2 linked regions of the Homo sapiens genome follow. The protein of the gene in region 1 purifies or fractionates together with the protein of each later gene. This does not show direct contact. Each region holds a gene or a part of one and is shown in the gene's direction. Other genes may lie near its edges.

The links.
Region 2: the proteins of ZNF287 (region 1) and SSX2B purify together in Homo sapiens (affinity purification with mass spectrometry, with the first as the bait; one large-scale study listed by BioGRID). This does not show direct contact.

Annotation. Positions count from the first base shown.
Region 1 is NC_000017.11:16,566,099-16,570,297, reverse strand, and holds the start of ZNF287 (zinc finger protein 287), read left to right. Parts: upstream 1-1,597; intron 1,598-2,183; exon of another isoform or gene 2,184-2,255; intron 2,256-2,368; 5' UTR 2,369-2,566; coding exon 2,567-2,969; intron 2,970-3,675; coding exon 3,676-3,773; intron 3,774-4,199. UniProt on the Homo sapiens protein: May be involved in transcriptional regulation.
Region 2 is NC_000023.11:52,749,741-52,754,177, forward strand, and holds the start of SSX2B (protein SSX2), read left to right. Parts: upstream 1-1,511; 5' UTR 1,512-1,578; intron 1,579-2,920; 5' UTR 2,921-2,940; coding exon 2,941-3,009; intron 3,010-3,447; coding exon 3,448-3,562; intron 3,563-4,097; coding exon 4,098-4,193; intron 4,194-4,437.

The DNA of each region.
Region 1 (4,199 bases):
TGTTATAATTGGCCATGGCGCTTCTCTCTTGTTCACTGGAATGCTCACTCTTGGAGCCCAGAGCCACCATGTAACAAGTCCAGCTGCCCTCAGTCCTTTATGCTGGAGAGACCACATTGAGGCACTCTGGTCAAACACAAGCCGAGTTCATCTTTTAGCCCATCTCCTCCCAAGCAGTAGACATGTGAGTGGAAAAGCCATCTTGGAAGCGGGCCCTCCCAGCCATCAAATCATCCCAACAGAGGCTACAGACATAATGAGGCAAAGGCCCACCCACTCAGTTCCCCTTTCAAATTCCTCACCATGAAATTTATGAGCATAATACGGTGATTGTCCTTCAAAACCACTAAGTTTTGGGGTGGTTTGTTAATAGAACAGTAGATAACGGGAACACCTTGAATATGTTTTTCTATGCTTTTATTTTTCCAGTGTTTTATGTATTTTTGTTTTGTGTCTCTTAGAAATAACAGCTACTCGGGAGGCTGAACCCAGGAAGTTCAAGTGAGAATCACTTGAACACAGGAGAATCACTTGAACCCAGGAGGCGGAGGTTGCAGTGAGCCGAGCTCGCACCATTGCACTCCAGCCTGGGCGACAGAGCGAGACTCCGTCTCAAAAGAAAAAAAAGAAAGAAAGAAAGAACATGGGTTTTTTTCCCCCAATCTGAGAGTCTCAGAATCAAATTCCTGAGGAGGAAGTGAAAACCTTTCACAGTTAGTATGTATGCACAGTAAAGCCCGAAACCGCACATTAAGTCTTTCTGCCTTTAGACCCACATCTTCCCTGCCCATTCTTCCTCTAGGAAATCTGGCGCCCAGTTTTCTCTGCGTAGTTGGCGCGGGGCTTCAACTCCCGGCGCTCCTCCAGCTACTGGCACCTCCCTGGCCTCCAAGACGTCTACCAGACCTGCGTCTGCCCGGGGAAACTTTGAAGTTCCCTTCGGAACCTCGCAGGCTGACAAGCAAGTCAGAGCGATGGGTGGAGGAGGTTGCCATGGAGACAGGTCCAGGGCCAGAGGCGCGGGAGGGGGAGGCGGCAGCTTGGGCTCCGATTGGCTCTGCGGGCGCGCAGCGTTCCTCTGGCGCACATGCGCAGTGACGCCGAGGCGAGGTCGCGGCTAAGCAGAGGCGCCGGGGTTTCTGGGCCGGGCTTCTCAGGACCGGGCTGGAACGTGCAGCTCCTGGCCGGGACACTCTGTGCTTTGCGGGGAAGGGAAGTGGCGGAGCCCGAGGATCCGCTGCCGCTCGGGACTGAGCCCGCCACGCAGGCGCCTGTGCCAGCGTCGCCATTGTTGCCTGTGGCCTTAGGGCCGCTCCGGCTGCCCGTCGGCCGGGTCCCAGCGACAGGTATTGATGTCCGGGCGCAGCGCGCGAGTGTCCGCGCGATCAGTGACAGCCCGAGCCCGTCCACGCGCGGGCTCCCGTGCTCGTGGCTTGCGGGAGGGCAAAGACGGGGTGGAGGCTGCTGTGGGCCCAGTCCCAGCGTTGCGCGTCGCACGGTCCCCGACTCCCCCGCTGCCCTCGACCTCGACCCTGCGGCTGAAGAGGAGTAAGAGGCAGAGGGACTTGGCCGGGAAGGGGAGGCGACAGGAGGCAAGGCAAGGCTGTCGCATCACCTCCGCAGGGCCTTGTAAACAGTTGTCTTTGGTGGCACGACTGTGCCTCAGCAGGGCTCGGAGCTGGAGCCTGGGGAGAGGTGGTGTCGGTTCTCCTCCAGATCAGGCCGGTTCTAAGGTTTCCTTCGAGAATCCTGGTTTCGAATATATCCCTAAAGAACTGTCTCCTATAGAAGCACTTAAAGGACTTGAAGTCACACCAACCTCTTCACTCTTTTCCAGTCCAACCCGCTGGTCTTCCCAACCCTCTGATAGTGAAAGGCTAGAATCGGCTGGCATTAACATGCAACGCAGATAAATGGCTCGCCCTTTCCCCTGACAGTTCCCTTGGGAACCTTGAGCACTGTATTAAGAAGAAATTCTCCTAGTTTCTTCCAAGTAACAGATTCACTTTGTTATTGTTGAGAGTCCGTTCAGTCATTACAGCTTCTGTAACATCAGTGACTAAAATAATGAAACTATTTTCTCTATAAAAATGTTTAATTTTTGTTACAACAGGTTAGAGGTTTAATCTGTTGTTTGGCTTAGATTCGAGTCATTGCCTCTGACACTACCTTTTTAATAGCAGCTCCATCCCCCACCAACCCCAAGCAGATGGCAGTTCCCTTACAAGTCTAAGGATATAGGGGAGGAAGACAAGGTAAAGCTTATGTGTGTTCATCTATGCACACTGCGAGTCTGTTTCTGTGTGTGTATATGTATAGTAGAGTACACCAGGGATTCTTGACCTTGTGGTCCATGCTTGTGTTTCAGGGTCTCTTATCCATCCCTGCAAGTTCTGGGCTCAGAATTTGTCACTAAGGCTGCTAACTCTACCTTGATTCTGTTCTGCCCTCGGCTGCAGCAGCCTTTGATATAGTGTCCTTGTGACTCTAGCATGAGACTTCAAGCAGTTGGCTCACTACTGGAGAAATAAAGGATATTGCCAGATTGACTCTCCTGTCTGTAGCAATGTTAGCCTCAAGCAAGAGGATGAACAGTTCTTCACGTTCTCAAATCCTTCTAAGGTGGAAGTCAGACAAGGCTCAGAGTGGACCCTACAATGTTGAGAAGGAAATCCTTACTTCAAGATTCTTGCGTGACACTGAGACCTGTCGACAGAATTTTAGGAATTTTCCATACCCAGACCTGGCTGGTCCTCGAAAGGCATTGAGTCAACTCCGAGAGCTCTGCCTTAAGTGGCTGAGACCTGAGATTCACTCAAAGGAACAAATTTTGGAGCTGCTGGTGCTGGAGCAATTCCTGACCATCCTGCCTGGTGAGGTTAGGACTTGGGTAAAGTCCCAGTATCCAGAGAGCAGCGAGGAAGCAGTGACTCTGGTGGAGGATTTGACTCAGATTCTAGAAGAGGAAGGTGAGAATCATAGAGCAGAGAGGGGAGGAATCCCTGGGTGGTTAAAGAAGACAACTAGCACATCTGAGCAGCTCCTTTAAAGAAATCAGGGAGAGCACTGAGAGGTCCAGGATGCATTTTTTAAAAAGAAAGAAACTGGGGAGAACAAAGGTTAGTGAGTGAGAACAAGGCTTTAACATGAGCTCCATCCTGCATGGTGTTCTCCTTCCAGATTGCTTGGGAGCAAACACACATTATCTAAACCCCCAAGAAAAACGTCTTGAAATAATGACCAGACGCAACCAAATTACCACTGTGTGAGCCCTCAGAAAGTACCTTCAGAGGTTTGCACCATTCTACTAATAAATCATTTGCTTTGTGAATTGAATTTTACAATAAAATACTTCCAAAAAAGGAAGAAAGGGTCTAGAGAACATTCCCTTATTAAGAGATAACTCACAAAATTAATATCACATAAGGATTTAGTTAAAATGTGAATTTTGTTCATACTCTTTAAGATTTTTAGAGCGAGCTTGTTTTTGAAGTCTGTTTTGATGTCTTAGGACAAGTCATTGGCCCTTTCCTCTGATGCTTTGAAGTAGGAGTGCTGTTTTTGATTTCCTTCTTACTTCTCGATTTAAGAAAGTGTAGGCATCTATTTGGTGAGGGGTTTCCTAGGCTATTCAGAAAGGACTAATCTCCCTCATGACCTCTTTCTCTTCTCTAGCTCCTCAAAACTCTACCCTTTCCCAAGATACCCCAGAGGAAGACCCCAGAGGAAAACATGCTTTCCAGACAGGATGGCTAAATGACTTGGTGACCAAAGTGAGTGTGACTGTCTTTTCTGATTTTAAAATGCCTTCTTAGTGTGTGAGGACATTTTCTGACCTGGCCCTATAACTACTGTGCCCCCAGAAGCTCTATCAAGGACTTAAGCCCCAGTTTCTCTCCTATGTTATCTTGGTCTGTTAAGGTAGGTGAATGTACTATAAAGAAAAGGTGCTTCCATTGCCTTCCCTTGATATGTCTTTCCTTACTTTGACTTTGTCAGCAATATCACATAGAGAATACGAGATTGACCTCCACAGCCAGATGGATTTAGGTTTTGTTTCCCGGCTCTACCATTGGAACTGCAATTTGGGACAAGATACTTAACCTCTCTTAGCCTGAGTTATTCTACTCTCATAAATAGAATTTACCTCTTAGGTTGTGAGTATTAAATATTATGAGACTTGTAGTTAGCCTGGATTA
Region 2 (4,437 bases), on another chromosome or scaffold:
GAGCCCATAGTCCCGAGGCCGAGGCGGGAGGATTGCTTGAGCCTAGGAGGTCGAGGCCAGCCTGGCCAACATAGCGAAACCCCATTTCTGCTAACAACAAGAACAACAGAAAAATAGCGTGGGCGGGGTGGCTCACTCCTGTAGTTTTGAGGCCAAGGTGGGAGCATTGCTTGAGCCCAGGAGTTTGATACCAGCCTGGCCAACAAAGCGAAAGCCTGCCTCTCCTAAAAAATAAATAAATAAATAAATAAATAAAAATGAGCGGGGTAGAATGGCACACGCCTATAGTTCTGAGGCCGAGGTGGAAGCATCATCTGAGCCTGAGAGGTTGAGGCCAGCCTGGGCAACATATCGAAACCCGGTTTCCACTAAAACGAAACAAAACAAAACAAAAAATAGCTTGGGCAGGGTGGTGCATGGCTGTAGTCCTGAGATGGGAGGATCCCTTGAGTCCAGGAGCTTGATGCCGGCCTGGCCAACATAGGGAAACACGGTTTCTACTAAAAAAAAAAAAAAAAAAAAAAGCGTGGGCAGGGTGGTGCATGCCTGTCGTCTCGAGGCCATGGCGGAAGGATCCCTTGAGCCCAGGACGATGAGACCAGCCTGGCCAACATAGCAAAACCTGGTTTCTACTTAAAAAAAAAAAAAAAAAAAAGCGTGGGCTGGGTGGTGAATGCCTGTAGTCCCGAGGCCGAGGTGGGAGGATCGCTTGAGCCCACGACGTCAAGACCAGCCTGGCCAACACAGCGAAACCTTCTCTATTAAAAAATCAAAAAATAAAAAATATTAGTGGGGGTAGGGTGGTTCGCGCCTGTAGTCCCAAGACGGAGGCTGGAGGATTGGCCAAGGCAGATGTAACCAATACCACAATCACATCCCATAAGTAAATACATTTTCCTCTCTTCAGGGCTACAGGTAAAGGATGGTAATTGTGCGCACCATACTTAAGATTCCCTTTCAAAAATGTAAGCAGAGGTTGCGGGGCCTTGGACTGTTTTTTCAGTGGCAACAGACATAGAAGCCACTGAAGAATGAAAGCCACGACTAAGTATAGCAAACCTCCGCAAATGTGCTAGTTTGGAAAACATCGTGTCTTTCAAGTAGAAAAATCACAGATTGACTATTTTTTTCTTCCCACAGTTCAGACTAGAATCCAGATTTTTAACCCAAGATCCAGGAACGGTCTTCAGAGAGTTCAAAATCTGACGGCGCCTGAGGACCACCCACTTTTTCGCAGTGGCAACAAAGTGTGGCTGGAGGAGGAGACATTATTCTGCTATGTCACTGCCCAAGGATGATGGACCAATCAGGGCAGTTAGTGAACTCCATCTGGCCAATTAGAAGTCAGAACAGTAGGCGGAACAAGCGAAGCGGATGTGGCTTCTATCAGTCCCGGCTCCAGGGACGGAACCTTCTCAAAGTGGGGGTGGAGACTCTAATTTTCCCGCCTAAAGCATCCCCTGGGATTGGCTACTTTAAGTTCAGAGTACGCATGCTCTGACTTTCTCTCTCTTTCGATTCTTCCATACTCAGAGTACGCACGGTCTGATTTTCTCTTTGGATTCTTCCAAAATCAGAGTAAGCATACGCCGATTTTCTTTTTCCATTCTTCCTACCCCTCCCCTCCTCCGCGGTGCATTTGCTATCTAGTTTTAATAAGGAGTGTATATGAGGCAGGCCGCCATCTCGAATCTTTCCTGTCAGTTTCTAACTTTTTCAGGTACGGGATTTTTCCTAGGAACTCTGTAGTAACTTAAGAAATTTGGGCCGGGCGTGGTGGCTTACACTTGTAATCCCTGCACTTTTGGAAGCCACAGCTGGTGGATCGCCTGAACCTAAGAGGCGGAGGTTGCAGTGAGCCATGATCACGCCAGTGCACTCCCGACTGGGCAACAGAGCGAGACCCTGTCTGAAAAAACAAAAACCAAAAAAGCTCACTCAAATCTTTCCTCCTGGGCTCAAGTGAGCCTCTCGCCTAGGCCTTGGGGCTACAGGCGCGCACCACCCCGCTTCTGCTAAATTTTGTTTGTTTTTTTTAGTAGAGATGGTTTTGCTACGTTTGCGAGCCTGGTCTCAAGCTCCTGGGCTAAGGCGATCCGCCCACCTTGGCCTTCCAAAGTGCTGGGATGGTACAGGCCTGCTCCACCAACCCCAGCTAACTTTTTGTGTATTTTGTAGACGGGGGTTTTGCTGTGTTTCCCAGCCGGGTCTCGACCTCCTGGGCTCAAGCGGCCTGCACGCCTCGGCCTCCCAAAGTGCTGGGATTACAGGCGTGAGCCACGGCGCCTGGCTGATTGCTGCATCTTGAAATGCCCCACATTCTCTCTAAGTGATGGCGGGCTCTTGTAGTCTCAGAAATTCTAGCTCTCTTCCTTCTAATAATTTACAAATCACCGAGTAATAGCCTCTGAACACGTTCATATTAGCGATGCTCATTTCTCTTCAACAGAACAGAACCCCCCATCCCTCTGCCTGATCAGATCCATCGCCAAAGAGACCATGTTATCTCTGGGACTAACTTCCCTTCCTTTATTTATTGAGTGGGGGTGTCAGCATGCCCCCACTGAATAAAATTACACAGTCATGTCCCTGCCTCCCCAAAAAGGGTCCGTACATCTTTCAGGGTAAGCCTAGCTCCAGGGAAACTACTAACAACATTAGCCAACCCCCTCCCAAAGACTCAAGGCTGCTTTGCCCATAGGAAACCTGTCATTCCCTATCAATACTTCTCCCAGAGACCCCTGGTTCCCTGTTTTCATCTGATTTCTCCCCATATCCTTACTCAGGGACAGATAAGCCCCGGATGGAGAAATGCAGCAGCTGATTCCAGGTGACTGAGGGTGGCCGGCCTTCACTGACTTCTCCCTCCACAGGATCAAAGCTGCTGTGGCTGGAAAGACTCAGGCTATTTCTCTTGCAGGTCAGACTGCTCCCGGTGCCATGAACGGAGACGACGCCTTTGCAAGGAGACCCACGGTTGGTGCTCAAATACCAGAGAAGATCCAAAAGGTGAGGTGACCTGGAGGGAGCAGAGTAGTGGCCCAGGGGACAGTGTGGGGTGACCCGGTTTCTGAGGAGGGGAGGACAGAGATACTGGAGACAAGGAGCAGGGTCTCGGGGGAGATCTGGACCCTTGGGAGCCTCCCACCCTCGCTCTGTCATCACCTAGCATCCCTGGAGACAAGTCTGTGACCTTGCACTACATCTGGTGACTCTCAGTCCATTCTGGAAGGTGGGAAGAGAGCCAGCCAGCAGCATTAAAGCCCTACTGTGTGGCAGGGGTGAAGCTAGGGAAGGTCCCTCGTGTTCTGTCAGTTAGCCATGGCATCAACCAGGAAGGATTATCATCCCCAGTTCCCAGATCTAGCACACAGGAAGCGGCTCCAGCTGAATGGCAGACATGCCTAGCTGAGTCCCTGCCATAATTCCTTTTTTTTTTTTTTGTAGGCCTTCGATGATATTGCCAAATACTTCTCTAAGGAAGAGTGGGAAAAGATGAAAGCCTCGGAGAAAATCTTCTATGTGTATATGAAGAGAAAGTATGAGGCTATGACTAAACTAGGTAACAGAAAGTTCTGGGAACAGACAAGTCTGGGGACACATGAGCATCCCTTTTCCTGCTTTGGCTACTTCTTAGGCTGCAGAAAGTACCTCACATTTTCCTTTTGTGCAGGGAAAAATCGCAAGGCAGCTTCTGGGTGTTCTGCTCTTCTGTATCCTGTCAGGGCTGAGGGCAGGGACTGGCCACAGTGGAGCTTATACCTGGATCCTGCACGTTTCTCTCCCTTAGGCTTCTGTTCTGATGAGCCCAACTGTCTCTGTGGCATCCCGGCAACCCCCCTACCCCCACCCCACACACACCCACCCTACCTTCTCTCGGCTTGTCTCTTCCTTTTTTTTTTTTTTTTTTGAGTCAGTCTCAGTCTGTCACCTAGGCTAGAGGGCAGTAGTGCAATCATAGCTTACTGCAGCCTTGAATTCCTGGCCTCAAGCAATTCTCCAGCCTTAGCCTCCCAAAGTGTTGGTACTACAGACATGAGCCACCATACCAGGCCCAAGCTTGTCTCTTAAGGAATAAACATTTTGCTTCTTTCTAGGTTTCAAGGCCACCCTCCCACCTTTCATGTGTAATAAACGGGCCGAAGACTTCCAGGGGAATGATTTGGATAATGACCCTAACCGTGGGAATCAGGGTGAGTAGATGGGAAGGGGCTGGAAAGGGTCTCCTCAAGCCCAGCTGCTTTTCAGCTCAGCTACCTGAGAAAGATCCTCAGGCATTTGTTCCCTCATACACATCAGGGCTGAGTGAAAAAAAAAAAAAAAATTGCATGCAGAAAGTTAACTACAGAGGCCATTCATATAAAATTTTAAAACATGCAAAAGAAGAATATATATTTTATGGATAATAAGTAAATGGTAAATGTATACAAACATGAA